Linked DNA regions of Homo sapiens. The protein of the gene in region 4 purifies or fractionates together with the protein of the main gene of each other region. This does not show direct contact. Each region holds a gene or a part of one and is shown on either strand. Other genes may lie near its edges. The genes, in order: CLN5, COL6A2, TXNDC15 and OBP2A.

What was found.
Region 1: the proteins of OBP2A (region 4) and CLN5 purify together in Homo sapiens (affinity purification with mass spectrometry; 2 studies listed by BioGRID and IntAct, with this or other methods). This does not show direct contact.
Region 2: the proteins of OBP2A (region 4) and COL6A2 purify together in Homo sapiens (affinity purification with mass spectrometry; 2 studies listed by BioGRID and IntAct, with this or other methods). This does not show direct contact.
Region 3: the proteins of OBP2A (region 4) and TXNDC15 purify together in Homo sapiens (affinity purification with mass spectrometry; 3 studies listed by BioGRID and IntAct, with this or other methods). This does not show direct contact.

Annotation. Positions count from the first base shown.
Region 1 is NC_000013.11:76,987,077-76,995,082, reverse strand, and holds the start of CLN5 (bis(monoacylglycero)phosphate synthase CLN5), read right to left. Parts: upstream 3,003-8,006; 5' UTR 2,985-3,002; coding exon 2,812-2,984; intron 21-2,811; coding exon 1-20. UniProt on the Homo sapiens protein: Exhibits palmitoyl protein thioesterase (S-depalmitoylation) activity in vitro and most likely plays a role in protein S-depalmitoylation.
Region 2 is NC_000021.9:46,093,719-46,101,123, reverse strand, and holds the start of COL6A2 (collagen alpha-2(VI) chain isoform 2C2 precursor), read right to left. Parts: upstream 3,013-7,405; 5' UTR 2,951-3,012; intron 1-2,950. UniProt on the Homo sapiens protein: Collagen VI acts as a cell-binding protein.
Region 3 is NC_000005.10:134,884,353-134,891,372, forward strand, and holds part of TXNDC15 (thioredoxin domain-containing protein 15 isoform 1 precursor), read left to right. Parts: intron 1-3,342; coding exon 3,343-3,830; intron 3,831-7,020. UniProt on the Homo sapiens protein: Acts as a positive regulator of ciliary hedgehog signaling. Involved in ciliogenesis.
Region 4 is NC_000009.12:135,542,025-135,549,138, reverse strand, and holds the start of OBP2A (odorant-binding protein 2a isoform alpha precursor), read right to left. Parts: upstream 3,014-7,114; 5' UTR 2,959-3,013; coding exon 2,887-2,958; intron 2,362-2,886; coding exon 2,228-2,361; intron 1,962-2,227; coding exon 1,891-1,961; intron 1,269-1,890; coding exon 1,158-1,268; intron 497-1,157; coding exon of another isoform or gene 432-496; coding exon 330-431; intron 1-329. UniProt on the Homo sapiens protein: Binds and transports small hydrophobic volatile molecules with a higher affinity for aldehydes and large fatty acids, including undecanal, palmitic acid, efficient aldehydes, benzenic aldehydes, heterocyclic aldehydes and aliphatic acids.

The DNA.
Region 1 (8,006 bases), on a different chromosome or scaffold from region 4:
TTGGACGGAAGTCAAAGCGCCTAATAAAGAAAAAGAAACCATCTACTTAGATTCTAAAATGAATCTGATTCTTCTCACGTCTTTTAGAATCCAGTAACATTTTTAGGGGACCATTCAAAGGTCGGACCATAGTTAATAAATATAAACACACATTTTGTTATCTTGTGAACAAACTTCCAATAATGTTTTTAATAGCAAATGATAAACTAAAAGCACTCTGATAAATACGGGCTTCCCTGTTCCCTGATCCCACTGTGAAAATTTTGAAGACAGGAATTTTGTCTTAAAATTTTTATAGCTCCAGATCATAGTAGACATTTGCAAATGTTTACAGAATAAATGAACATTTTTCCAATGTGTTCAATTTTACAAACAGTCCATACATTAAGATTATTCAGATAATTATGAGTAACAGAATACATTTTATATTTACTTACGAATTAACATTCATTCAACCAATATTTATTGAGGCTCCACTACATATATAGTGAACTATAGTAAGAAGGAGGGAAACAAAAATTAAAACACTGTTCCCTTTCTCATGGAACTGTGGGTGGGAGCTGGAAAGACACTGAACAAGTAATGAGTGTGGTATGTGCTAGACTAAAGGAATGAGTCCTATGGGCACACAGGAAGGACAAATCATTGTTAACCAGGTATGGGATGAATGGGGTGGGGAGGGCAAAGAAAGAGATGAAGGCCGGGCCTAGGTTTTTAATGTAGTTGATTAGAAGGTTAAGACAGAAAGGCAGAGGAAATGTTAAGTATTGTAAGACAAGCCTGGCACATTTGGTCTCCGGTAGGTACGGAAGACTGGATTTCAGGCCTCGACGCAGGAATGGAGACGGAAGAGACTGGCAGGGGCTGTCATTTTGTCACTAGGAGAATGTGCATGGAATTCCCTGCCTTATAATTGGGGAGGGCTAAACTTAAAGGATGTTAAGTAGCAGATCTGACAGGACTGAATTTGCTATAAAGTAAACCTTATTTCACGAATTAAAAGAGGGTATGGAGAGAGGCCAAATAAAACATGAGAGATCAGTTAGAAGGTGACCTCAACAATGCAGGCAAGAAAAGAAGACCGGAGAAGGCCACAGCAATAGGACTCGAGGGGCACTGCAGCTGAATTCAGCTCAACAGACACACTGGTCACCTATAATCTGGCACTGGGAAAGAAAGAAGTGGTGGCGACAACAGCTTCTATCTAAGAATCCTAGATCCCCAAGGTTGTAGCCAGATCTAACAAATCTTAACAAATCAACAAAAATTTCTATTTTAACTTAAGAAGTTAAAATCTTTATGCTAATCGAAACTATTAACGACGCTCCCAAAAGTTTCTGCTACTTGGGTACAGTGTTTTATAGGCACTTACCTGGTTTAAACAAATACATAATCACATGGAGATTTCACTGACACAGCAAAATCTATTTTAGTTCAAAGGTAATTTAAGTGTGAACTTAATAAACTTAAATATTATATTCAATTGAGGGAATTAGATGGGAGCACGTACTTAATATCTGAGACTTAAAAAAAAAATCCACTAAAAAGCCATAGTCAACACCTTGCCCTAATGTTAAATCAAATCGTTTGGATTTACAATTCTTGTTCTATTGAGTAATTTTGACTTCTTACAAACATTTTATTATTAACATTTTCCAGAAAACTAGCTTCAACCACAAACTTCTCTTTCCACGTAGTATATCACACAAAACAAAAAAGTGTTGTAAACATTTCAGTGAGCAGAATACACTATCTAGGTTTGACAACAGCTGGCATTTTACTAGATTTAATCCTTCCAGCAAACCTATGAGGTACGTGCTACCACTATTCCTATTTTTTGACTCAGGGCATGTGGGCACAGAGATTCTGAGTAACTTTCCCAAGATCCCTGGTGATGACAGAGCCAGATTTGACCCGCAGCAGGCAGAACTCCTTCCCACTCATACTGTCATACAAAATAGCTGTTTTTTTCAGGTTTGTTGTGTGCAGTTTTAGCTGTTGATTACTTATGCTAGTAAGTTAAAATTATGTCCAATGATGCTTTTGGTTTAAAGAAAAATAGCTGTTTTCAAAAACTGCTGGTCTTTCTCCTGCCTGATGTTGACACCATGTTTTCTTTCTCTGTGTTTAGCTATCTCTGACCGCCGGAGGCTGTGTCTTCTCTGTCAAAGGCTGGAATCGACCTCCCAGGTGTGCGGGCTCTGTCCCCGACTTAGGACCGGCGTCCTACCTCCAGGCTGAAGACTGGACAAAAGCGGTGACAATCTTCCCGGTCTAACCAGGACTGCAGGAGACGGGGATTCCCGGGATGCGCGACTTTTGAGGGCAAAACTGGGAAGTCCCAATAAGGACTTCGGATCAGGTTCTGATCAGGTTCAAACCAGAGCGAGTTGGTCGCCCAGTAAATTGTACCAAATGTTCCGCGGTAATAACTAACGACAGTGCATGATATAAATAAATGCGATAGACAGTGTTTTTAAACTACTCAAGAAATCAGCTACTTGTACCCAGAAGTCCCTCCATTAAATAACATTACTCTCCTTTTCTTCTTCCACGATTCAGGACTGTCCTGAGTCTGCCGCAAGTGACCAGAGGGGACGAAAGGTCCCAGGGCTGCACGTAACGAGCGGCTGCGACTCCCCAGTCCTCAACTTTGCTCTCAAGTGCGCTCCGAGCGTCACCCGGCGCTGTCCCCGCACCATCTCGTGACCCGACACAAACCACGGTGAGCAGGGGTCCCCGCCCCAGCACCCCATCCCCCATCGTCAACGCCGACCCCAACCCCGACAGTGCGCGCGCCGCCGCACTCACTTGTAGGGCACCGGCCAGTGGCGCCGGGAGGGGATGCCCGAGACCCGGGACCAGCCCGGAACCACCGCGAGCCAAAGCAGCGCCAGGGCCCAGCACCAGGAAGCGCGTCCCCGAGCCGCGCCCGCGCCCCGCCGCATCTCGGCGCCCTGTGCCGTGTCTACCTCCTGCGCCATCAGGCTGCACCCAGTACTTCCGGAGCCTCTCGAGGCCTGCGACGCCGGTGGGAGGAGCATGCGCGGAGCCGCCAGTCCGGGACGCGGGGCGCCTTGCCCCTGCGCGTCAGCTCCAGAGCTTGGCCCCAAGCGCAGGTTCCGGCGCATGACACCTCCCCGCGCCCGGCCCGCGGCGGCTTCCACACTTTGCAGTCCAGGAAGGTGCTTTGGTCTGGCTCCCAGGAGAATTCGATCCAGACCTGGGGCGTCATCTTTTATGAATTGACCTGTCCTTGCCCAAAAGCCACCACCAAAACCAAAAATCTGTCACCGGGGCTCCTCCCAACACCGAACTTTTACCCCATCCCACAGGGCCCACGCTAGGTGTCAACAAACGTTGAGTGAACGAGAATGTGTATTTGGAGCTGAGGGTGCAGGGCTGGGGGTGCAGTGAGGAAGAAGGGACAATAGTGCGGAAATGGCTCGTCGTCACCCGACCTGGGCCAGTCATAACAGTGGTTAACACTGACAATATGTGGTCCCTGCCACTCCCCAAGTGCTTAGTGGGGAAATGACTCGTCCTCACTCGACCTGGGCCAGTGATAACAGTGGTTAACACCGACAATATGTGGTCCCTGCCACTACCCGAGTGCTGCCGAATCTACCCCCTCCCCTACCGCTCCCCTCACAGGCAGGTGTTCCTTGCTTGGATCTGTCACTTCACTGGAAAGAAGTTTCTGCATCACCTTCTCTTCTTTGACTCTTCAACTAGGTCAAGAAAACAATGGCATCAATTACCCGGCTTTTGAGGAGCCTCTTGTGGCATGCTTTGCTGTTAGGCACAAATACTGACTTAAGTCTATACGTAGTACATTCAGGGCCTTGCCATAGTCACTTGTTTTTACCAGACAGCAGTTTTGCAGGGCCTTAGACCGGGACTTTCCAATTCCTTCACTTCACCCACAACTCGTGTGAAGCATCATAATGTTTGTAAGCCTATGGGAATAAGCAAGGTGGCTTCGGTAGCCGGAGATGACCACCACAATCCATTGGAGGATATGTAGCTTGTGGGGGTGTCACTGACTTCCTTGGGCCCTCCAGGTCTCTTGATTACATATGGGACTCAGTACCCTGCCCCAAACACACACTCCTTTGCCCACTTGCTGCTCCAGGTTTGGGGGTTTTGCGGAGGTTCAGGCTGGGCTGCATTTTACCATACGTTTGTCTAAGCGTTTTGATAGCTACCTAGCTCTCCTCCGTATACTATGGCCAAATTCAAAATTACCAAGGCTAAACTGGCTTCTTCAAAGACCTGCCCAAGATAAGAGGGGGAAGCATTCTAGCCCTGAGAGCTGAAATGTAATGTCTGATTTGAAGGGCACCTGAAGGATTCCGTGGCCCCACACTTGAGCCTAGCTTAAAAAGCAATCAGCAGGAACAGCTTTAAAAAAAAAAAAAAACATTGATTAGAGCATTTACAAATCCTGGAACCATACACAGTATGATGTATGAGGGCCACAGTAGATGGCCTCAACAACCAGAGCCTCCGTGGCTGCCTGGAGAGCGGTGATGCAGGCAGCAGCTTCATGAGATATTTGCAGTTTAATCCAGTCATCTGCAAGCACAATCTGCCCATCAGATTGGACTTTCTTGGAGGCAAAGAGAAGCAACTGCAGTGGGGTGACTAAAGTCATGCCTTTAGCAGAGATGGCTCGAGTTCAAATCTTTTCACCAAATACAAAGAAGGGAGATAGGTACTTCATGTCTTGGCTACTAAAAGGACAATTAACAGTAGATGGTTCCAGGTTCCATCTACTGTTAGTAGAGGGCCACAGTAGAACCTCCCATTCAGTTCAGGACTTCCCAGAGCTACAAAAACAAATTCAGGTTGACCTTGTTCAGTGGTGGAGGCCTCTGGTCTTGCTTCTGCCATCTGTCTCTTCATTCTGTGTGCAGGGAGCTTTCATGGTAAGAAAGCACTTCCTAGTATTGGTTTTTATTTTTTATTTTTTTGGAGACGGAGTCTCCTTCTGTCACCCAGCCTGGAGTGCAGTGATGTGATTTCGGCTCACTGCAACCTCCGCCTCCCGGGTTCAAGCAATTCTCCTGCCTCAGCCTCCCTAGTGGCTGGGTACAAGTGTGTGCCAGTTGTAATTTTTTTTTTTTTTTTTGGTAGAGACGAGGTTTCACCATGTTGGCCAGGCTGGTCTCGAACTCCTGACCTCAAGTAATCCACCTGCCTCGGCCTCCAAAAGTGCTGGGATTACAGGCTGTAGTCACCATGCCTGGCCCTAGTATTGGTCTTAACTCAGCCTCCTGGTAGCTCCCATTCTTCTGGTCTGGTTTTGCCTTGGATGGGAACACTGATTAAACCCCATTCTTTTTGTCTATGACCCCACACCCCAAGCTGAAGGTGCTCATAGATTATCGCTGGTCGATACTGGTTGCTTCCCCCTTGTCCATGGCTTTTAAATCTTGAGGGCCCACAGACAGAACTAATTTCAATCTAATTGGTTTCCCTTGGATCCTTGCCCATTCAGCCTAAGACTGCCTGGACCACATGGCATCTCCCCAGATAGAGTGATAGGATTCTGGGGAAGTGTGGAGTTGAGATGAAATTTAAATAAGCAGTATTTTGGTAGACTCAAAGCAAAACAAGGCTGTATGTCAATGATGGTAGTGGCTGCTCCAGACGGCCTGCTGCTGCCATCAACACACAGGCTCTAGGTCTAGACTGCAAAGTGGATGAAGGGCCTATTTCCTTGGAGACTATGAAGTTAAAATAGCGATGGAGTTTTGTGTCTGGAAACCCCTTATCAGAAGCTTGACATCTGGGTTGTAAATTGAGGCCAATTCTCTGTGTGGAATGACTGAGGTCCTTCAAGCAAAGGTGGGATATTTTATTGTTACTGATGTAATTTCAAACACGAAGTTGTCTCTAATCTATGATTTTAGAGAACAAAGTTTCTTAGTGAATAAGAAAGCAGGAAGCCAGGCAAGGTGGCATGTACCTGAAGTTCTAGCTACTCAGGAGGCTTGAACCCAGGACTTTGAGGCTATAGTGAGCTATAATCGTGCCTGTGAATAGCCACTGCACTTCAGCCTGGGTAACATAATGAGATACTGTCTCTAAGAAAAAATTTTTTTTTCGTGTAATACTTTATTTTCCATTGTATTAAATGAAAGCCAGGAAAATATCAAGTTATTTTTAAAGACAAATCTTTACTCCTTAAAGAAAAATACAAACTGTGGTATTTCTAAGATAGATCGTTACATTTTACATAATATAAACAAAATCACTAATGCATCTATATGCTTGGTTTCCTTAAGCTACAGTGAACCACAGAATGGGTTAAAATGCATTTACTTTTTGGTGGGAAATAAACATTGGAAAAAAATGTCACACATAGCATGGCTTTTTTTTTCTTACTGTCTACACACAGGAACTGACATAACCAAGCCTTAACAGATGCCACCTTCTCTTCCTTGTCCAAAGTAGCCAGTTCCATAGGCCCCCCTACCACCTCCTCGCTGGAATCCCCCAGATCATCTGTAGCCTCTACTAGGCCCTCTGTAATCTCCTCCAGAGTTGCCTCTATAGCCACCTCAGGAAACTTCTCTATAGCCTCCACCAACACCTGCACCATATCCTGCCCGACAGGAGCTGGAGCTGCCACCATAGCCTCCGCTACGATAGCCTCCACTGCTATAGCCACTGCCATAGCCTTCACTGCCATAACTAGAACCTCCCCTTCTATATCCGCTTCCATTGTCATATTGGGCCATCTTAGGAGGACCTGGACCATCTCCATACCATGTACTGCCAATCATAAGGTTGATATCAGCAGCTGAGGGTCTAGAGATTTGACGGATCATGTTCAGTATACTTTCATTTACGGGGTCCAACTGGCTGATGATAGCAGGTTGTTTGGTTACTTCAACAACCAGAGCCTCAGTGGCTGCCTGGAGAGCGGTGATGCAGGCAGCAGCTTCATGAGATATTTGCAGTTTAATCCAGTCATCTGCAAGCACAATCTGCCCATCAGATTGGACTTTCTTGGAGGCAAAGAGAAGCAACTGTAGTGGGGTGACTAAAGTCATGCCTTTAGCAGAGATGGCTCGAGTTCGAATCTTTTCACCAAATGCAAAGAAGGGAGATGGGTACTTCATGTCTTGGCTACTAAAAGGACAATTAACAGATGATTTGTGGATAAGTGCATTACACCCTTCAGTGGTGAGAATCTTTGTCTTTTCCTTATGATAGCATACATTGGGGTACACACCAAAGGCCAGGAAGAGAGATAACAACATCCAAATTATTATCTGGTCCAGTGTTAGTAAACACTTGTGTCACCAAACAATCTTCTGGAAACCCAGAATTAATCAGAATCTCTTTGAGCTGAACTTTGACTTCCCAAGTCATTCTTAGTGTAGCCATATGAAGTCTTTTGTGCGCACAAAAACGTATTTCTGCTTCTTCTCCACCCATTCTAGTATCATCTCCGGCTTGGAATACTGATAAAAGGGCTACATGATGAGAAAATCCGTTTCCAGCAAAATTTCAATGGTTGTAGCCCAGCCACTTTCCTTCATTTATAAAAGGCTCTGGAAAGCAGGTAGCAGCAGGAATGGTACAGATAGCATCTCCCACATAGAAAATACACACCATTATCATCATTTTGCCAAAACGAGGCTCAATGAGGAGGTTAGCCAGGATTCGTCCCAATGGAGTCAAATCATCATTGGCATCTAATGCATCAAGCTCTCTAAGAGTGTGTTCTGCTTCAATCACAGCATCCAAAGGGAGAGTTTCAATTGCTTTGGCCAGAAACTGGCCAATTCCAACTAGACATGGAAGTTTTATGCTAAGAGCAACTTCATGCAATGGTGTTTGGAACATCTCTGGTGTCATGTGGGTTTCAAGTCTCTCAAAACGAGCTCGGCTGCAGAGGTGAAAGCAGAATCCAGGCCGTATTCGGCCAGGTTGCCCTTTCCACTGTTCAAGGTTTGTTTTTGATCCCCATACTGTAGCATAGTTGGTCA
Region 2 (7,405 bases), on a different chromosome or scaffold from region 4:
GATACCACCTCACACCCATTAGGATGGTTAACATTTAAAAAAAACCAAGCGAACCCGGAAAATGACACCTGTTGGTGCAGATGTGGAGAAACTGGACCCTTGTGCACTGTTGGCAGGAAAGCAAAATGGTGCAGCCACCGTGGGAAACAGTGAGGCAATTAATTCTCAAAAAAATGAAAAAATCAAATGATCCACATTTCCACTTCTGGGAACATACTCAAAAGAAGTGAAAGTGGGATCTCCAAGAGGTATCTGTGTGGTGTGTTCATGGCCACATCATTCACAGTAGCTCAAACGTGGAAGCAACACAAGTGTCCAGCAACAGACGAATGGGTAAACAAAATGCAGGGCATGCATGCAGTGGAATACTGCTCAGCCTTACAAAGGAAGGGAATGCTGACATACGTTACAGTGTGGATCAATCTGGAGGACATTAAGCCACGTGAAATAAGCCAGTCACAAAAGGAGACATTTCATACGATTTCACTCATATGAGTCACCTAAATGGCCAAATTCCTGGAAACATAAAGTAGGATGGTGGCTGCCAGGGGAGGGAAGGGGTGATGCGAGTTGGTGCTCCATGGGCTTCAGTTTGACAAGAGGAAAAGAGTTCCGGAGATGGACCTTGGTGATGGCTACACAACACTATGAATGTACTTACTGTCGCTGAACTAGCTGCACACTTAAAAATGGTTAAGACAGTACATTTTATATTGTATACCACAATAAAAAATTCGGGAAAATAAAGCTTTTTCAAATCAATAAAAAAAGAAAAAACCCCCCAAACACCCCAAACAAACAAACAAACAAACACATCCATGGCCTGGGCAACATAGTGAGACCCCGTCTCTTAAAAGAAAATTAGCTGGGCACAGTGGTGCATGCCTGTAGTCCCCGCTACTCGGAGGCTGAGGTGGAGGCTCGCTTGAGCCAGGGATGTGCAGATTGCAGTGAGCAGTGATAGCACCACCACACTCCAGCCTGGGTGACAGAGCAAGACCCTGTCTCAAAAAACAAACAAACAAACAAAAAACCAAAAAAACCCAAAAAGCGAACATCCATTAGGAACATGGGGACATCACAACCAGGCAATGCACATCACTACACACGGTCAGTGATCAAACAGCCCAAATAGCCTTGTACTGCACAAAAACCAAAGACATGCAGAACAAACCCCCCAACAAGGCATCATTCCTTATCTATGAAATGAGAAAAAAAAAAAAAAAAAAAAAAAGACAGTGCTGCTATCCATTGTGGAGACAGGTTCCCCGCCACTTCTGGGATGGGCATCTGACGTTTCTGACCTCTGGACCCAGATGCCGCCCTTCTAAGAGCAGGCGCCCTGTGAGCTGGGATTCCCACCACCCCTGCCCATTACAGCCTCCACTGCAGGCCAGGAAGGGCCGCTGGGCGGGGCTGGGTGTTTGGATCCTGGGCGGACCTGGGCAGCCCCGTCCCAGCCAGTGCCCCGCGGGCTGGGTAGGGCCCCTTCCATGAGCAGCACCAGGACCCCTGCTTGTGGCGGGTGAGCCCCGCATCAGGCGCCCGACTTTGCATAAACGTGAAATAGGCCACAGGAGGCAGCAACTCAACGTGCAGGGCCGTGTTTAAGAGAAAGCATCTCACCGGGCCTTTCTTTCCTTTTTTTTTTTTTTTTTTTTTTTTTTTGAGACAGTCTCGCTCCCTCACCCAGGCTGGAGTGCAGTGGCGCGATCTCAGCTCACTGCAGCCTCCGCCTCCCAGGTTCAAGTGATTTTCTCCTGCCTCAGCCTCCCGATTAGCTGGGATTACAGGTGCCTGCCACCACGCCCGGCTAATTTTTTTTTGTATTTTTAGTAGAGACGGGGTTTCACCCTGTTGGCCAGGCTGGTCTCGAACTCCTGACCTCAGGTGATCTGCCCGCCTCGGCCTCCCCAAGTGTTGGGATTACAGGCGTGAGCCACCGTGCCCGGTCTGGCCTTTCTTGAAATAATCACCAGAGTCGAAGTGCAAGGGGGCCTCCAAGCCAGAGCTGTGTTATCCCAAGAACAAGGAGCTCCGCGGATCGCAGGCCCCTCCTTTCTGGGTTCCGACCCCAAAGGGAAGGTCCCTTCTCCAGGGGCGTCCTAGGCGCGGGCACCGGGGTTCTGCTGGCACAGCCCGGATGGGCGCCGCTCGCCCGCACACCTGCGGCTCCACAGAGGGCCGATCCGTTCGGTTGCCAGCAGTGGAGACCCAGGCCCAGCGGTTCCACCAGCGCCCCGGCGGAGTCCCAGGGCGGGTGTGGGCGGCCCGGCAGGGGCTGCGGGTCGCTGTCAGCCCGGGTCCCGCCGCCCTGGGGAGCCGCCTCCGTCTGCAGCTTCTCCTGGGCCTGGCGGGGCCCTGGTGGGCTCCAGGCCGGGAGGGGCGCAGCGATGGGGCGTCGGGGCCACCCGCGTCCCCTCCCCGCCCAGTCCCGCCCTCGGGCACCGAAAGCCCCTCCTCCCCCCGCCCCGCCGCCCCTTCCGTCCGGCCCGGGGAGAGGCCCTGCGCCCCCGGAGGTCCCAGCCAGCCGGGGCGTCTTCCCCGCGGGCCGGAGCCGGACCCGAACCGCTCGCAGACGCGGGGCCTGGCGGGGCGTGCGGTGCCGGGGTCGTCTCGGGAGCGGGGGTCCCAGCACCGAGCTCGGGCGCAGACAGGGACCCCCCCACCCCGCCCAGGCCGGCTCCGCCCCAGAGGAGGCCGCGGGGAGGTGGCCCCAAGTCGCGCGCCCGAGGGTCGGACCCAGAGACGCGGAGCCACAGGGGCAGGCGCGGCCCCAGCCCCGCGAGGAGGAGCCCCGAACCCGCCGAGCCCCCCGCCGTCCCTGGGGCTGGAGTCCCCCTTCCCGGGGACCCGAGGGACGGAGCCGCCGCCGCCGCCTTCCCAGGACTCGGGGTCACCCCCCGCGGGCCGAGCGGCTTCCAGGGTGCGGGGTCCGGGAGGCGCTCACCTGGTCCCGAGGAGGCTCCGCTCCCGACGGCCCGAGGCGCGGGCGCCGAGTAAGCAGCAGGGAGGGAACCGCGGCCGGCGCCGCCCCCTTTATACCCCGCCCCGCCGGCCTGACCCGCCCCGCCGCCAGGAAGCGCTGCGGCCCCGCGGATGGGAGGAGGGGGCCGGGGGCACGGGAGGGGGATGGGAGGGAAGCGGGGACCCTCGAGGGCGGGAGGCTGGAGGAGGTGGAGAGGGTGGGGACCCCCCTGCAGCCCGGGCCGAGCTCCCCCGCCAGCCCCTGCCCGCTGCTGCTCGGACTTCGCGTCCCGGGCCCGGCCGCCCGTCGCCCCCGCCCCATTTCCCGGACGACCTGGCTGGGGCTGTGTCCGCCTCCGGGGCCCTGGGTGTTGGGGACCGCGCCCCGCACGCAGGGCCGACGGGGGCCCTGGGACTCGCCCCTTGGTAGCAGCTGCCCTGGGGGGTGCAGGGTTCCCCCCATCAGCCCCCCGACCCCTCCCCTACCCCGTGTCCTGTGTCCGGCTTGCTCAGGCCTCCCGCGAGAGGCCCCGGGTCAGGAGCTCCTGCAGAAACTGCCGCTCCTGGGGCCTGAGGGTGGGGAGCCGGGAGGGCAGGGACAGCAGAGCCTGGGCGCGGAGGTTGGGGCAGAGCCTGGGCATGCGGCGAGCCACCCCTGCCACCCCTTTCCCGCTGGAAACCACAGGTGGGCTTGGTGCTGGGCCCTGGGACCACCGTGAGGTCCCCACCTGAGCCCAGCCGGGGACAGAGTGACAGGGGTCCCTGGTAGGGCTCTGTCTGGGGTCCCCACTCCCCACCCTGGTCACAGTCCCCCAGCCAGGGCCGGGGTTCCTCCTTGAGGTGAGGCGCAGCCGGGTTGGGGAGAGGTCCCTGGGCTCCGGGACAGGGCTCCCTTCAGAGCTGTCCTGGAAGGTGGCGGAGCGGCTGGGGGCGAGGTCCCTCTTCTGATGAGCAGGTTTGCAAATGTGGTGTGTGTGTGTGTCTGAGACTGAGTGTGTGTGGTGTGTGCATCTGAGTGTGTGGTGTGTGTCTGTGTCTGAGACTGAGTTTGAGTCTGTGGTGTGTGTATCTGTGTGTGGTGTGTGTCTGTGTCTGAGACTGTGTGCATCTGTGAGTGTGTGGTGTGTGTCTGCGTCTGAGGTTGAGTGTGAATGTGTGTGTCTAAGTGTGCCTGAGTGTGAGTGTATGTGCCTAAGTGTGCCTGAGTGTGGCAGCCACATGGTAGCCATGAGTCCAGGGCTCCTGCCTGCTGCTCCTGAGCACAGCTGACGGCGGGCACCGTGTGCCACTCCCCTGGGTCCATGCCGAACTCTCACCTGGGCAATGCCTCCTGCTTCCAAGCCAGCAGCTCCCAGGGGGAAGCCAGGCCCCTCCTCACAAGACCAGAATCCTTTAGGGGTTACCTTGGCTCCAGAAGTTCTCCCTCGGCCTGGCCAGCACTGTCTAGGGGCACGTGCTGGCCAAGGCTCCCCGTATCTCCTTCACAGGGGTCTCACCTGTGGTCTGAGGCTTCCGTCCTCTTTGGCCACCCCCCCAGCATCCTTCACAGACATTGCACTGATAAATCTCCAGTCACGTCAGAGCTTCCATGGCACCTGCCTCTTGGAAGACCCCAATTAACACAAGTGGTGCAGGAGGGGCCTGAGACTCAGCTGGTGCGGTGGCCGTTTCCCGGCCAACACCGAGGACACCATTCTGGTTGATGTGGGGATATGGGTAATCTTTGGCACAAAGTTAGGGCCCCAATTGTTAAATGTTTTCACCAAGAGTGATCTGGGACGTTTTCCTGGTGGAAGGGGAGGCCTTGTGGGTGTGGCAGTTTCCCCCTTTCAGTGCATGGGGGGAGTGGGGTTGATGCTCCACAGAGGGATGAATGGAGATTGCGACGTTACCCACGGTTGCCCATCAGGCTTGGTGTGAGAACAAAGGGCCTCTCTGGTTGCTGAAAAGGAGTCCCATGTTTGGCAGAGGTAGAACCAGTATGGCTGAGGAGCCGACAGTGACTGTGGGGACCACCTAGCTCTAGGCATGTTTTGATGCCTGGCCACGGCTGGCCTATGTGAAGGTCTGGACCCCGGTTGGGAAAATCTGGGACCCTGAAACATGGGCTGAGACATCCAGGTGGAAGCCCTGAGGGCATGGCCCTGCAGACCCCTGTCCCCTCAGAGCTTGCAGAGGGGCCCCTCCTGCCCTTGGAAGCCAGCACTTCCTCTGTGCTGGAAGATGCTCCAGGGGCCTCCCCTACCAGAGCAGCAGGTGCCCTCACTGGGGGCTGCTCCACCTTGTCTCTTGGCTGCCAGCAGTGACTAGGGAGAAAGTCCAGGGTAACCTGGATGGGGACCTGCTAGGCCTGACCAGGGAGTAGAGAGGTTGCATGTCCAGGAACTGCACGAGGCAGCCAGCATGTGCCTGCAGGAGCCAGGGAACACCCCCGGTATTAGATTTCCAGGGTGCTTTATCCAGGGGGACAGAAGAACTATTGAGGCGGAGGCACTTGCTTGGCACATAGGATTAGTTACCTGGCAAGTTCTGCAGGTCGTGGGTCAAAGATGATTCTGGGATGGCTCCCAGAAGCCTGGAGAAAGCGATGGGTCATGTTGAGCCAAGCCGCCCTGGCGGACGGCAGAGGAAGGAAGAAAGAGGCCGAGGGCGGGGACTCCAGTAAAATATCGTGGTTCCCTACTCCATTCCTGGACTTGAGCTAATTTCCTGTCTGGAACCATTGATTGCAGAGGTGGCCAGGTCACCAGAAGGAAGGACCAGGCAATACCTTGACAAGGATGTTCTGTAGAATCCCGCTGTCACTCACTCAGCTGGCTGCACGCTGGGAAAATCCAGAGATTTTGAGGACAAATGGACGCGGGATGTGAGTGGACCTTGATACTGGAGGCCAAAAGTGTCGCTGTGGCCTCCCTGTTAGAGAAGGGGCTGACGGGGCCAGGTAATAAAAAGGAATCCTGGCTAAAGTGTTGGGCACAGTGAGACCCCTGGGCCAGAAGACCATCCAGTGGCCGCTTCCCTGCCCCCTGAGTATGTAATTATAATTTATGTACTTGGTGGCTGGAGTAGCCATATATTGGATCCCAGGCCTGTGTGGTGACAGACATCATAGTGGGGAAGTCCCCTTTCCATGGCCAAGAGAGTAAATCACAAACCACGTTGCATCCTGGGAGGATGGCACCACCGTTAAAGGCCTCACGGAGGCGAGGGTGGTGGACTGTCGTGTCTAATTCTCTGGCCTGGTCATTGCAAAGACTGATGGATCCTAGAAAGTGACGCCAGACCACTTAGCCTGAACCCGGTAGTAGCTCCAGTTGCATCTGCTGTGTCAGACGTATCATCGTAGCAGATTAATGAGGCCAGTGATTGGCCATTGCATTCTTTTCTATTCCAATTAGAAAAGAGGATCGGAAACAGTTTGCATTTACATGGGAGGAACAACAATACTCATTCCCAGTTTAGTGCAGGGCCACGCTAACTCTGTCCTCTGTCCTAATATTGCCTGAAAAGATCTGGGCACCTGAGCAGTGCACCGGACACCACACTGATCCATTACAGTGACGACATAATGGGCAGGAGGAGGAACAGGAGGGTCATGAGCTAGAGGCCTTATGAGACACATTTGCATCTGTGGGTGGGAGGTGAACTCCGAGGATTCAGGGACCTAACTTCATGGAAGTTTTTAGGGCACCAGTGATCAGGTTCATACCAGGACATCCTCTAAAGTAAAAGAGAAATTGCTACATCTTGCATCCCCTACTTCAAAGGAGGAAGCACAGGGCCTGACAGGCCTTTTTGGGTTCTGAAGGCAACATATTTAATTCCTGGGGGCACTGCTCTGACCCACGGCTTGGCTGACATGGAGGCTGCCAGCTTCGAGGCGGCCAGGAGCAGAAAATGACTGTCTGAGCAGCCCTGCCATCTGGGCCACGTGACCCAGCAGCCCCTGTGGTGTTGGAGGTGTCAGTGTGGGAGCAGGCAAGTGTGGGGCTGCGGCAAGCCGCAGTGGGAGAGCCAGAGCCTCTGGGTTTGGGTGGAGGCCGTGTCACCTGCAGAGGAAGCTGCTCACCTTTAGAGAAATGCTTCCTGTGGCCCAAGCAGGTGGGGCAGCCCAGCCGTGCATCTCTGTGCACACCAGGACCTGGCTTCAGGTTGGACTGATCAGGGGAGGCTGGGCACTTGCTTTGAGGCCTTGCTGGGACCTGCAATTTCCACCCTATCCCTCCCATGAAGGGGCCCCAGTGATGGCTGCCGTGTTGGGTTTCTGTTTGTCTCTGCAGATGGCAATGACAGCAGTAGTCCCCTGGCAGCCACACACCCCTCTCCAAGAACCCCAGCGTGCCACCTGCCAGAGCCTGCAGCTCCCACACCCCTCTCATGCCTCCAGCACAGCCCTGCCACCACTTGCAGAGGAAGCTGAGACCAGAGCACTGAAGTA
Region 3 (7,020 bases), on a different chromosome or scaffold from region 4:
ATTCTCCTGCCTCAGCCTCCCAAAAAGCTGGGATTACAAGCATGCGCCACCACGCCAGGCTAATTTTGTATTTTTAGTAGAGATGGGGTTTCTCCATGTTGGTCAGGCTGGTCTCGAACTCCCGACCTCAGGTGATCTACCCGCCTCAGCCTCCCAAAGTGCTGAGATTACAGGTGTGAGCCACCGAGCCCGGCCAATTTGATTGTTTTTATTTTTATTTAGTTATTTTTTTGAGACAGGGTCTCACTCTTTCGCCCAGGCTGGAGTGCAATGGCTTGATCTTGGCTCACTGCAACCTCTGCCTCCCAGGTCGATTTGATATTTTTAATATCTTATATCTTGATATCTACTTTACTTTTTGAATGCAATACAGTTACAATTATTGTTTTAATATCCTTGTCTGCTAATTGTGACATGGGTGCAAGTTCTGGGTCAGTGTGGCTTGATTGATTATTCTCATTATGTGTCCTATTTTCCTGCTTCCTTATATGTCTGATAATTTTTTACTGGATGCCAGACATGAATTTTACTTTGTTGAATGCTGGATATTTTAGATTCCCTATACATATTCTTTTTTTTTTTTTTTCTGAGACGGATTTCTCTCTTGTTGCCCAGGCTGGAGTGCAGTGGCATGATCTCGGCTCATTGCAACCTCCACCTCCTGGGTTCAAGTGATTCTCCTGCCTCAGCCTACCGAGTAGCTAAAATTACAGGTGCCCGCCACCATGCATGGCTAATTTTTATATTTTAATAGAGACAGGGTTTCACCATGTTGGTCAGGCTGGTCTCAAACTTCTGACCTCAGGTGATCCACCCACCTCGGCCTTCCAAATTGCTGGGATTACAGGCGTGAGCCACTGCACCTGGCCCCGTATATATATTCTTGAGCTTTGTTCTGGGGTACAGTGAAGTTACTTGAGAACAGCTTGATTCTTTCAGGTTTTGCTTTTAAGCAAGCAAGCTGTTATTTTCTTTAGGGTTAATAGTGTCCCACTACTGACGCAGGTCCTTTTGTATACTCTACTCAATACCCTGTGAATTATGAAGTTTTTCAGTCTAGCTGGTAAGAAGAGGTACCATTCCCTGCTCTGTGTGAATGTTGGGTACTGTTCCTTCCCATCCTTTCTGGTAGTTCTTTCTCTGGCACTGGGTAGTTTACTCACATGCATGTGATGACCCGTACCCTGCTGTATACTTGGGGGGGCCTCTGCAGATCTCTGGAGTCCCCTCTCTAGATAGCTCCTCTCATCTGCAGTATTCTGTCTTGCAAACTATGGCTTCTTGGTCTCCTTGGACTCTTAGCTCCATCTCCTCAACTGGGAGAGTCTGCTGGGCTCTGCCTGGATTTCCCCTCCCTGAGCCACAGTGGGAACGCCATCAAGGCAGTAAGTTGGAGCAGTTGTAGGGTTCTCTTCATTTGTCGCCTGTTTCTCGGATGTCACTATCCTCTGTTGCCTCATAACTGATTTCCTGAAACTGTTGTTTTATATATATTATCTATTTGGTTGTTTCAGTAGGTAAGGTAAATCTGGTTCTTGTTACTCCATCTTGGCCAGAAGCAGAATTCCCAGATAATGTTTTTGAATCTCTGAATGAATCCACAGAGCTCTATGCCCTAGTGTGAGGTAGATCAGTAGGGTAACTGTAGTTCATAATAGCCTATTGTATATTTTAAAATAGCTAGAAGAGAAGAATTTGAATGATTCTAGCATGAAGAAAAGACAAATATTTAAGGTGATGGATATCCCAAATACATTGATCTGATCTTTACAAATTGCATGAATATATTGATTATCACATGTGCTTTGTGATTATCACATGTACATCTGTTATGCATCAGCAACAACAAAAAGCTCTACAGGGATATTCTTTGAAATCTTATACAAATGTGCATACCTGAGGAAGCCCCCAGACCTTCCCAACTTTGAAGTCAGTTGGTCACTGACACTCCAGTGACATGCTGTTGGCACGCAGAACTCATCACCCAGCGGGTGGTTTCTTAACCACATGGTGAGCTTTCGTGAGGGCTGCTGGCCTCACTGGTTTCTGCTGGTTGGTGCCTGGCACAAAGTCTGGCAGCTGGTGTTGAGTTGATGAGTTGGAGGGCAGGAGGCATTGCTATGGAGGTGAGTGGAGTTGGGTAAATAGATGTACGAGACTACCTGGGACTCTTCCCTTATCTGAGCATTATGCTCAAGACCCACCTTCTAGCTCCAAAGTGGGGGAAAGTTCTCTTCTTCCTCCTGCTGCTGCCTCTGCACTGCCGAGCCCATCTCCCAGCACTCCCAAGGGCAGCAGCCCAAGGGTGGCAGGCAGGAGAGCAGAGTCCAGCTGTCAGAGGCCACCTCAGGAAGGAGCTGCTGTGTGGCTTGAACAGTGTTCTTCAGGCAGTGTGGCTCAGCATCCCCGAGGTATCATGGCAGGGAGCCTACGGCTCGTTCTGGAGTAGCAGCCAGAAAACTTTGCTCGCAGACTTGGCTTTGCTGCTTACTATCTGTGTACCATCGGACACTGTGCTGAGCCTCTCTGTGCCTTGCCTCGTTACCTGTTCAGTGGTCTTGGTAACCCTTGTCTTGCCCATCTCACAGGACTGTTATAATGTGTGCAAAGATGCTTTGTTCTAGTAGAATCTTGCATAAAACCATGATCCTTTTCTTGGATATTATCAAACAAATGAAACTCTTATCAAAAAATGAAAGTGTTTATATTCTATTTTCCTAATGAGATATCTGAACTGGAATGTTTTTGGTTATAATCCACATGGCAAGCAGCAAGTTTAGGGCAGAGCTGTGTGTTTGTCTATTATTTGACATTCATTATTTTGTTTGCTTGTTTGTTTGTTTGTTTTTTGAGACGGAGTCTTGCTCTGTCGCCCAGACTGGAGTGCAGTGGCGCAGTCTTGGCTCACTGCAACCTCCGCCTCCTAGGTTCCAGCAATCCTCTTGCCTCAGCCTCCCTAGTAGCTGGGATTACAGGTGCCTGCCACCATGCCCGGCTAATTTTTATATTTTTAATAGAGACAGGGTTTCACCATGTTGGCCAGGCTAGTCTTGAACTCCTGACCTCAAGTGATCCACCTGACTTGGGGCCTCCCAAGGTGCTAGAATTACAGGTGTGAACCACCATGCCCGGCCTTCTTTGACATTCATTAATTTATTAATAGTACCTGCTTGTGACCTTCTTCCTAACCTGGGAAATGGTGAGTAGCTCTCTGATAGTTTAATGAAAGGAGACCTTTTTGTCTCCAGAGGGGAAAATTTCGTGTTAGAGGGGAACTGTAATTCTTTGGGGTTCATTTGTTTTGAAGTCAAATATGACTCTGAATGTGCTGGCATGTTTTAGTTGCAGAGGAAAGTGGTCGCTTATGGTCAGAGGAGCAGCCTGCTCACCCTCTCCAGGTGGGGGCTGTGTACCTGGGTGAGGAGGAGCTCCTGCATGACCCGATGGGCCAGGACAGGGCAGCAGAAGAGGCCAATGCGGTGCTGGGGCTGGACACCCAAGGCGATCACATGGTGATGCTGTCTGTGATTCCTGGGGAAGCTGAGGACAAAGTGAGTTCAGAGCCTAGCGGCGTCACCTGTGGTGCTGGAGGAGCGGAGGACTCAAGGTGCAACGTCCGAGAGAGCCTTTTCTCTCTGGATGGCGCTGGAGCACACTTCCCTGACAGAGAAGAGGAGTATTACACAGAGCCAGAAGTGGCGGAATCTGACGCAGCCCCGACAGAGGACTCCAATAACACTGAAAGTCTGAAATCCCCAAAGGTGAACTGTGAGGAGAGAAACATTACAGGATTAGAAAATTTCACTCTGAAAATTTTAAATATGTCACAGGTAAGGAAAAATTATTTAGTGCTTTTCTCCTTTTCAGTACATTTATTTTATGATTAATACCCTATCAACTTTGAAATGGAAAATCATGATCTTGATCATATTGTAAGCGAGATAGCATTTAATGGCTGCTTCAGTGAAAATCAACTTTGCCCTCTGTGATGTTTATAGGGAGACGAGGAAATATAACTAGTGTTGATTATGCTTTTCAGATGGCCTAAACCTAGTTATCCTTGGGCCAGTCTCACCACCAAACCTCACGATAGAAATCCCAGTGGACAGATAGTTGCTTGGCACCAAAATCATAGCATTTTTCCTTTTGAGACAGAGTTTTGCTCTTGTCACCTAGGCTGGAGTGCAATGGCATGATATCGGCTCACTGCAACCTCCGCCTCCTGAGTTCAAATGATTTTCCTGCCTCAGTCTCCCATGTAGCTGGGATTACAGGCATGCACTACCATGCCTGGCTAATTTTGTATTTTTAGTAGAAATGGGTTTCACCATGTTGGCCAGGCTGGTCTCAAACTCCTGACTTCAGGTAATCCACCCGTCTCGGCCTCCCAAAGTGCTGGGATTACAGGTGTGAGCCACCGTGCCCGGCCATTTTTCTTCTTCCAAATGAAGTATTTATTTATTACAGAGGCAATTTAAACATATCTGGATTACTAAAATTATAATTTACCATTATTTAGACTAGTAATGCCCCTGGAAAATATGTTATATTGATGAAATTTTCTCTTTCATCAATGACTGACAATTTCTGTGGGGTGGTTCAGAAAACAGAAGGGTAGGATGCATTCACACTGCTTATGTAAGAGAGGTAAATCCTGACTCTAAGAGCTGTGACTGTTGTCAGTGAGGGCACAGCACCTGTAGTGCACATAGCTCCTCCAAGGGCAGTGCTCGGCGCTGGCTTTGCATCCACTCCTGAGTGCCTGTAGATGCTGTGGTCTGTGGGACTCCCACAGGTGTCACTCACATGACTGGGAGAGAGCAGTTTAAACAGTCTGAGTTATGGATTAAACAGGTGGTGGCAGGGACGGTGTACCCTTTTTCTTTTTTTGACACAGAGTCTCACTCTGTCACCCAGGCTGGAGTGCAATGGGATGATCTGGGTTCACTGCAACCTCTGCCTCCCGGGTTCAAGTGGTTCTCCTGCCTCAGCCTCCCGAGTAGCTGGGATTACGGCACATGCCACCACGCCTGGCTAATTTTTGTATTTTTAGTGGAAACGAGGTTTTACCACGTTGGCCAGGCTGGTCTCAAATTCCCGACCTCAACTGATTTGCCCTCTTTGGCCTCCCAGAGTGTTGGGATTACAGATGTAAGATACTGTGGCTGGCTAGGACAGTGTACTCTTGAATTGATCTAACCTTTGGCCAAACATATCGATATGACTGCTTAGTTCAGACTTAGCTCTGCTGAGATGATAGTTTGGATTTGAGATCGTAGTCCTCTAATAATTCCATTTTAGATGGTTTGAGATGCACAATTCAAAGGTGGGGGCAATTGCCTGGACCCTGTGAGTACTTAGTACAGGCATACCTCAAAGATACTACAGGTTTGGTTCCAGACCACTGTGATAAAGCAAATATCGCAGTGTAGCAAATCACGTGAATATTTTGGTTTCCCAGTGCATACAGAAGTTATACTATATTGTAGTTTATTAAGTATGCAGTAGCATTATGTTTAAAAAATGTATATACCTTAATTTAAAAATACTTTATTGCTAAAAAATGCTAACGATCATCTGAGCCTTCAGTGAGTTGTAATCTTTTTGCTGGTAGAGGGTCTTGCCTTGATGTTGATGGCTGCTGACTGATCAGGATGGTAGTTACTGAGGGTTGGGGTGGCTCTGGCAATTTCTTTGAGACAGAGTATTGCTCTGTCACCCAGGCTGGAGTGTGGTGGTGAGACCATGGCTCACTGCAGCCTTGACCTCCCAGGCTCAAGTGATCCTCCCAGCTCAGCCTCCCAAGTAGCTGGGAATACAGGCATGTGCCACCATACCTGGCTAATTTTTTTCTTTTTTTTTTGTAGAGATGAGGTCTCACTATGTTGCATAGGCTGGTCTCAAACTCCTGGGCTCAAGTGATCCTCCTGTCTTGGCCCCTCAAAGTGTTGTGAGTCGTGAACCACCATGCCTGGCCCACAGTTTCGTTTCGTTTTTTTCTTTTCTTTTCTTTTCTTTTCTCTTTTCTCTTCTCTTCTTTTCTCTTCTCTTTTCTTTTCTTTCTTTTTTTTTTGAGATGGAGTCTCACTCTGTCACCCAGGCGGGAGTGCAGTGGCGTGATCTCAGCTCACTGCAACCTCCATCTACCAGGTTCAAGCTATTCTCCCACTGCAGCCTCTCGCCGAATAACTGGGATTACAGGCGTGCTTCACATGCCCAGCTAATTTTTGTATTTTTAGTAGAGACAGGGTTTCACCATGTTGGTCAGGCTGGTCTTGAACTCCTGACCTCAAGTGATCTGCCCACCTTGGCCTTCCAAAGTGCTGGGATTACAGGCATGAGCCACCACACCTGGCCTGTGGCCCACAGTTTCTTAATTCCTTTCACGAAAGAATTCTCTGTAGCATGCAATGCTGTTTGATAGCATTTTACCCACAGTAGAACTTCTTTCAAAGTTGGAGTCAATCCTCTCAAACCCTGCTGCTGCATTATCAACTAAGTTTATGGAATATTCTAAATCCTTTGTCGTCATTTCAACAGTGTTCACAGCATCTTCACCAGGCGTAGATGCCATCTCAAAAACCTACTTTCTTTGCTTATCCATAAAAATCAACTCCTCATCTCTTCAAGTTTTATCATGAGATTGTAGCAATTCAGTCCTATCTTCAGACTCCACTTCTAATCCTAGTTTTCTTGCTATTTCTACCACATCCGCAGTTCCATTCTCCATTGAGGTCTTGAATTCCTCAAAGTCATCCACGAGGGTTGGAGTCAGCTTATTCTAAACGCCTATTAATGTTGATATTTTGACCACCTGCCATGAATCACAGATATTTTTAAAGTCATCTAGAATGGTAAATCCTTTCCAGAAGGTTTTAAATTTATTTTGCCCAAATCCATCAGAGGAATTGCTATCTATGGCAACTATAGCCTTATGAAATGTATTTCTTAAATAATAAGAGTTAAAAGTTGAAATCCCTCCTTGATTCATGGGCTGCAGAATGGATGCTGTGTTAGCAG
Region 4 (7,114 bases):
GCGCGGAGCCCCAGACCCCATCGCAGCCCAGAGCGCGGAGCCCCAGACCCCATCGCAGCCCAGAGCGCGGAGCCCCAGACCCCATCGCAGCCCAGAGCGCGGAGCCCCAGACCCCATCGCAGCCCAGAGCGCGGAGCCCCAGACCGCATCGCAGCCCAGAGTGCAGACCCTCCAACGACGAGGATGCTAAGCAGGGCCCAGAGCCCCTGCGAGGAGACTCGGGGCACACGGGGAATGCGGGGGACATGGGAGGACATGGGGGTCATGGGACACTGGAGATCACACAGAGACACAGGGGAACACGGGGTACTGGGCACAGCCGTCCTCACCCGTCTGCAGGGGCATGAAAATGTCCTCCTCCGAGAGTCCCTTGTGCTGCACCAATTTCTTAAATTCTTCCAGGGCCTCCAGGTTGGTATTAGGATTCCTACCTGCAGGTGAGGTGGCCAGGTGAGCCAAGGTGGGGACAGCGGCACGGCCCTGCAGGGAGCAGATGCTAAAAGGAGACGACCACGGCCCAGCATCAGGACGGGGGAGAGGCCCGAGAGTGGATCAGAGCTCAGGGGTGGGGCTGGGGACAGAAGAGATGGCAACTGTCCAGCACCAGGCAAGGGGGAGAGGAGGCCTGAGAATGGACAAGAGCTCAGGGGTGGGACTGGGGACAGAGGAGACGGCCACCGCCCAGGTGAGAGGTCCCCAGGAAAGGGGACAGTGGCAGGGTCCAAGCCACTCAGCAACCCCAGGGGGACCTGGGCAGCTCCCAAAGCCACTCTGCAGGGTCATAACCCTCACCTGGAGGGACCTTGTGTCCCAGAGGCACTGGCTGCCCTGCCGCCCTGGAGAGTCCCTGCCCCATGAAGAGCTCTGTTAAGATGCTACCTCCCCCTTAAGGTGAGGCCCCTACACCTGAGACCCCACAAGCGGCCCTTGGCAGGTTCATGTCACCGAGGGCCGTGTCTGTCCCTGCCTGGCCCACCCCACTCCCACTTCAGGAACTTGGACCAGCCATCCAGGGCAGCGCTTGGTGCCTAGCACACGAAGGCCGGCGCAGGGGGCTTCCTTTTCCCCCCGTGCCAGGGCGTGATGATGGTGGTTCCACTGGCTTCTGGAGGCAGAGACCATGGGGCAGGACATGCAGGCCCCAGCGGGCCCCTCACCCACAAGCTTTCCCATGTAGCGCAGGCCCCCACGGCGCTGGTCTTTGCAGTAAAAGACGTAGTCGTCCGTCCCGGGCAGCTCCTGCAGGTATATGAGCTTCCTGCCCCCATCTGTAGATGACAGAGAAGATGGGTCTTCAGTGCCCTCATTCCCGGAGAGAGCACTCAGGACCACACGAAGAAACACTCAGGAATGTTTCAGTGGTCACCCAGGTGCCCTGGACAGCCTGAGCCAGGCCTGGCTGCTCCGCACAGCATGGACCCGGACACGGAGGCAGGAGCCTCCTCTCGGAAGGTCCCAATGCAAGTAATGGAGCCACAAGGCCAGAGCACGTCCAGGACTAGAGTCCGGCCTTCCCAGCTCCAGCAGCTGCTCCTGCCCCACTTCCCTGTCCCTAACCCTCGGATTCCTGATCCCAAACCCTCAGCCTTGGCTTCCCATCCCTAACCCTCGGCCTCCTGGTCCCTAACACTCGGATTCCTCAATGTGTCAATGGCTAGGGCCTCCCAGAGGGCAGGCTTGATCTGGTCCATCTCTACTGTGGACAAGCCTGTCACACCTGGTGTCTGATGTCAGGGCCACCAGCCCCCCAGGAAGGAGAGGCCAGCCCCTCCTTGGAGGTGGGCAGGGCTGGGACCCTGGCAGAAGTGTGGCCTGGGCACTCTCCACCTGCAGTGGGGCTGGTGCATCCGGGGTTGGGCATGGGGAGTGGGGGGTCGGGGAGGGGCTCACAGGCGCTGAATTTGCCAGGCTCCTCCGTCTTCCGCATCAGGATTTTCTTCTGGATGCACCGATCCTCCCTCCTGGAAAACAGGAGACACTCGGGCAGCGGCTCCCAGGACACACCTGGCCCATCCTCAGCTCACCTGGTGCATGGCCCTGACCCGGCAACCTGAAAATTCCACTGCCCCCCCACCCCACCGAGCTTCAGGATGTCCTGGCTGTTTCCCTCCAAGGCAGGGGGTGACTCTTCCCAACACCCGAAATGTGGATGGGGCAATGGGCACCAGGTGGGTCTGGGGCGGGGAGCGAAAGTGGCCTGAGGGGCCCTGCAGTGGGCAACACTCACATGAAGGTGAACGTGGCTTCCAAGTTCCCACCGCCCAGGGCTGTCACCTTCACTGGGGACACCTTCCTGGGCCTCCTGTCCTCCGGAAAGTCCTTATCGACCACCATGGCCTTCACGTACCAGGTCCCTGTGATCTGGAGCAGGCCAAGGCCGTGAGCCCACCATGGGTGGCCCAGATTCTACTCTGACCCTGGCACTCAGGCCTGCAGCTATAACCAGACACCCATGGTGCCCGGCTGCCACCCCTAAAGGCAGGCTGGGTTCCTGCACCTTAGTTAGAGCTCAGCTGGAGTGAGTTAGAGCCAGCCCCCTGCTCAGGGCTCCCAGCCCCCAGTGGAAGGAGGGCATGTCTGCACCCCATGGACCCCCGGGCCCCAGCACCAGGTGAGCCCTCCCTCCACAGGGCCCAACCCTGCGAGACCTTCGGGCTTCAGGCGTCAGTGCAGCAGGAACCCCTGAGCCGAGCCTGCTCCGGCCCTGGGCCTCGGGGGGCCGTGTCTGCTGGAGGAACAATAGGACCCCTCCACCACCACCCCAGGCTGGGAGCACGGGGTCAGAAGCCAGCCTTCAGTGACACCTCCTAAAGCAGGGCCCCTGGCACTGCCCCCTGCCCAGGAGTCCACCTGGCTCCTCCATCCGCCCACGCCAACCCAGCTCACATCCTCCTCCTCCAGGGTGAAGGACAGGGCAGCGGCCAGGCCGAGCGTGACACCCAGGAACAGGGTCTTCATCTCCAGAGCTCTGTGCTGCCGACCTCGGCAGGTCACTGGGCGTCTGAACAAGGCTGTGCTGGCTCCTCTCGAGATGTTCTTTATAGCCCCCTGGCCAGTGTCCTGGGAGCACGTGGCACGGTGCACCCCTCCCCATGGTGGCAACCAGTCCTGCATCCGGGAGGGGGAGTGTCCTCATTGCTGGCATCTGGTGAACAGCAATTCAGTGCCAGCCAGAGAAGAAAAGACACACGATGCTGTCCAGGGTTTGCATCCAAATGCGCCCACTTGGATGAGCCCGGAGGACTCCAGAGGACAGGGCAGGGTAGTGCACGTCTGCACCCCGAGCCACAGAGGGAGGGCCCACGGCTCGGAATTCTTCCTCCCTCACCCCTGAGCCCTCCCAGGGCCACGGCTGGGACCCTGGGCAAGTCCTCTGGGGAACTGGCCATCTCCCTGCTGAGCAGAAATGGACTGGGCTTTAGAACCATAGAGACGTGGGGCTGCTGCCAGCTGAGTCCCGCACGCCCTAGAGCCCAAGCTTCCGCCCACTCTGGGACCCACTCTGCATTGATTTTCCCCACCTGGACCCTGCACTCGAGCTTCCTAGGGGCAGAGAAGGGCACTATTGTGTGGTTCAAGGTCAGTATATATACGGCCTCCTCGGGCCATATGAGGGACCCCGCCGCCTGCCCCACCCCGCTTCACTCCGTACCGGAGCCTGGCTGTGCTGTCCTCAGAACACGTGATCTCTCTGGATTGTCCTGCCTGTTTCTTCCTGCACGTGTTCATCATCCATCTCCCTGTTAAATACAAGTGGTAGAGTGGAATATACATTCACTCTACATCCCCTCTCTCGTCAGCTTCGACGGCCCCCAGCCACCGGGACAGGCCTTGAATCTCATCCCTTTAGATAAATGGGTGGCATGAGCATCAAGAGCCACCTGCCAGCCTGTGCTCAGAGTTTGTGGCTGAGCTCCCTTGGGCACCTGGCTCCGCTGGCCTCATCCCCAGCCAACCTGAGCCAGAACTTTGCCTTCTCCCTCCTGGACCCTGTAGTTCCCGGGCCTGCGTCATCTGCCCTGGGACCCAAGGCTGACCCACGCTCTGCAGGCAGGTGCTGGGCCCACACAATCTTTGTGCCTCTCTGGCCCAAGATCAGACACCCTCAAGTGCTTGCTAAATAATACTAATGCACACTCTAATAAACCCTGGGGGCTATAAAGAAAGGGCTGGCGTGACCCAGTGCCTCACCCCTCTCACGGCAAGTGCTGCCGAGCAGAAACCCCATCCTTAGGGCGGGGACTGGGCTCTTCAGGACCAGAGATGAGCAAACAGGCTGGAGTCTCTACCTCAACGGGAAGATTTCTCCGTTCCCCATTTTTGTTGCCTGTACCCCAGGCACCTTGTATTTCTTTTTTTTTTTTTTTTTTTTTTTTTGAGACGGAATCTCGCTCTGTCGCCCAGGCTGGAGTGCAGTGGCGGGATCTCGGCTCACTGCAAGCTCCGCCTCCCGGGTTCACGCCATTCTCCTGCCTCAGCCTCCCAAGTAGCTGGGACTACAGGCGCCCGCCACTACGCCCGGCTAATTTTTTTTTGTATTTTTAGTAGAGACGGGGTTTCACCGTTTTAGCCGGGATGGTCTCGATCTCCTGACCTTGTGATCCGCCCGCCTCGGCCTCCCAAAGTGCTGGGATTACAGGCGTGAGCCACCGCGCCCAGCCGGCACCTTGTATTTCATTGGTTGGTTGTGAATCATTGATTTAAGCACCGTATGACACTGGTGCTGCTGGCTCAATCCTTGAAGAAAATGCTGGAACAACACGCGCAGATGCTTCAGGGAACAGGTCACCCCCATGAATTCTATGCTCGCTGGTACGGGTGCTCTCCAGGAGCCTCCCATTGTCCACCCATCTTGCCCTGTGTCCCAGTCTCGTTCACCAACTGTGTTCTTTTAGATGCTGGTTGGGTTCAACTGCTGCAGACACCGTCAGGGGATGGTAGGGTTGGAGGCTGGGGGTCAACCCATGGCAGACAGCAGGGGCAAGATCCCTGGCCCCCAGTGCTTTGTGGCCTGGTGCGTTTCTCTGGATGGCTTCTGATGGTGGTTCCTGTTGGGTTGTTAAAAGTATTTAACAAAATTCAACACTCATTCGGGATAACACCTCTCAGAAAAATAGGAATAGAAGAGAACTTCTTTAACTTGAAAAAGAACATCTACGAAAAAAAAACCTATGGCTACATTATTTCTAATGGTGAAAGACTGATGTGTAACTGGCTCAAGTCCAGCTGCTCGCTGCTCAGAAGTCAAGGCATGAGAAGTGAGGTGTGGTAAAAGGAAAGCAGCTTTATTCAAATACTGGCAGTTGGGGAATGGCCAGACCCATGCCTTTAAAAGACCATTCAGATTTTCTGGACTGAGCGAAGGGGTTTAAGGAGGAAAAGGTGTGGGAAATATGTGGGAATGGTGCAGGAGGATGTTGGTCTGCATCTTGTTCTGATGGTTATTGTGAGTCATCAATCGTCTGTCCGGAGGTCTGGTTTGCGTCATCCTGATTTCAGCCGGGAAGTGGTAGGCTACCTGTAACTCCCCCTAAGAGGGAGGATTCTGCAGCTGGGTCTCTCTGCCTGGTTTGTTTCAAAATTGGCCCCTGGAATTTCTAAGTAAGCACATAATTAGATAAGCGAGCACTGCTCACGGAAGTGCCTGGTGGGAAAGGGAGAAATAAAGAGTTTCGAAGTATGTTTCAAGGCTGAAAGCAAGAAAGGAAAAAAGTTTTTAAGCACATTTTGAGGCTGGGATACTCAGTTACAAATGCTTTCTCTTTAACATCAGGGACAAGGCAAGGATGTCCACTCTACCACTTGTATTTAACATAGTACAGAAAGTTCTAGTCAGAGTAATATAGGTTTTTTAAAAAGGAAATTAAAGACATACAAATTGGAAAGGAAGGAAGAAAACTGCATCTGCAGATGACATTATTATCTCTGTAGAAAATCCCAAGAAATTGAAAAACAAAACAAAAGAAAACAATACACCTCCTAGAACTAGTAAGTGAGTTCAGCAAGGTTGCAGGACACAAGATAAATATACAAAGATCAATTGTGTGTCTACATACTAGTAATGGACCCTAAACTTAAAAACACAGTACTATTTATAATGGCTAAAAAAATGAGATGCCTAGGCATAAGTCTAACAACCCATATGCTGGATTTGTATGCTGAAAACAATGCAATGATTATAAAATAAATCAAAGAAGATCTAAACAAATGGAGAGACGTTATATCCATGGATTAGAAGACTCAACATAGTAAAAATATCATTTCTCTCAAATAATATAAAGATGTAACAAAATTTCTATCAAAATTCCAGAAAGAATTGTGGTAGATATAGACAAGATTATTCTAAAATTTATATGGAAAGGCAAAGGAACTGGAATAGCTAAAACTTTTTTAAAAAAGAATAAGGTGGGAGAAATCACGCTACTTTATTTTTGTTTTTATTTTTTTATATGGAGTTCACTCTGTCACCCAGGCTGGAGTGCAGTGGCACGATCTTGACTCACTGCAACCTCCACCTCCTGGGTTCAATCGATTCTCCTGCCTCCACTTCCCGAATAGCTGGGATTACAGGCTCTCGCCACCACACCCAGCTACAGGCTACCCTTTCAAGACTTATATAGCTAGCACATGGACAGATGCATAGATCAATGGGACAGACAATAAAGAATCCTCAAACAGACCTGTACAAATACACCCAATTACATTTTTACAAAGATGCAAAAGTAATTCAGTGGAGGAAAGATAGCTTTTGTAGCAAACGGGCTGGAGCAACTGGACATCCACAGACAAAACCACCAAAGAAAAAGAAGAACCACAACCTTGGTCTCACACCCTGTATGAAAATTAACTCAAAATGGATCATAGACTTCAACATAAAACTTAAAACTATAAAACTTTTAGAAAACAAGAAAATCTTTGACATATGGAGCTGGGTCAGGAGGTTTTAGATTTGTTGCCAAAAATATGATCCATAAAAGGAAAAATTGTTAAAATAGACTTCATCAAAATAAAAACCTTTTGCTCTGTAAGAGACCCTGTTAACAGAATAAAAAGACAAGCCAAAGACTGAAAGAAAATATTGACAAACTACATATTCAACAAAGAATTAGTTTCT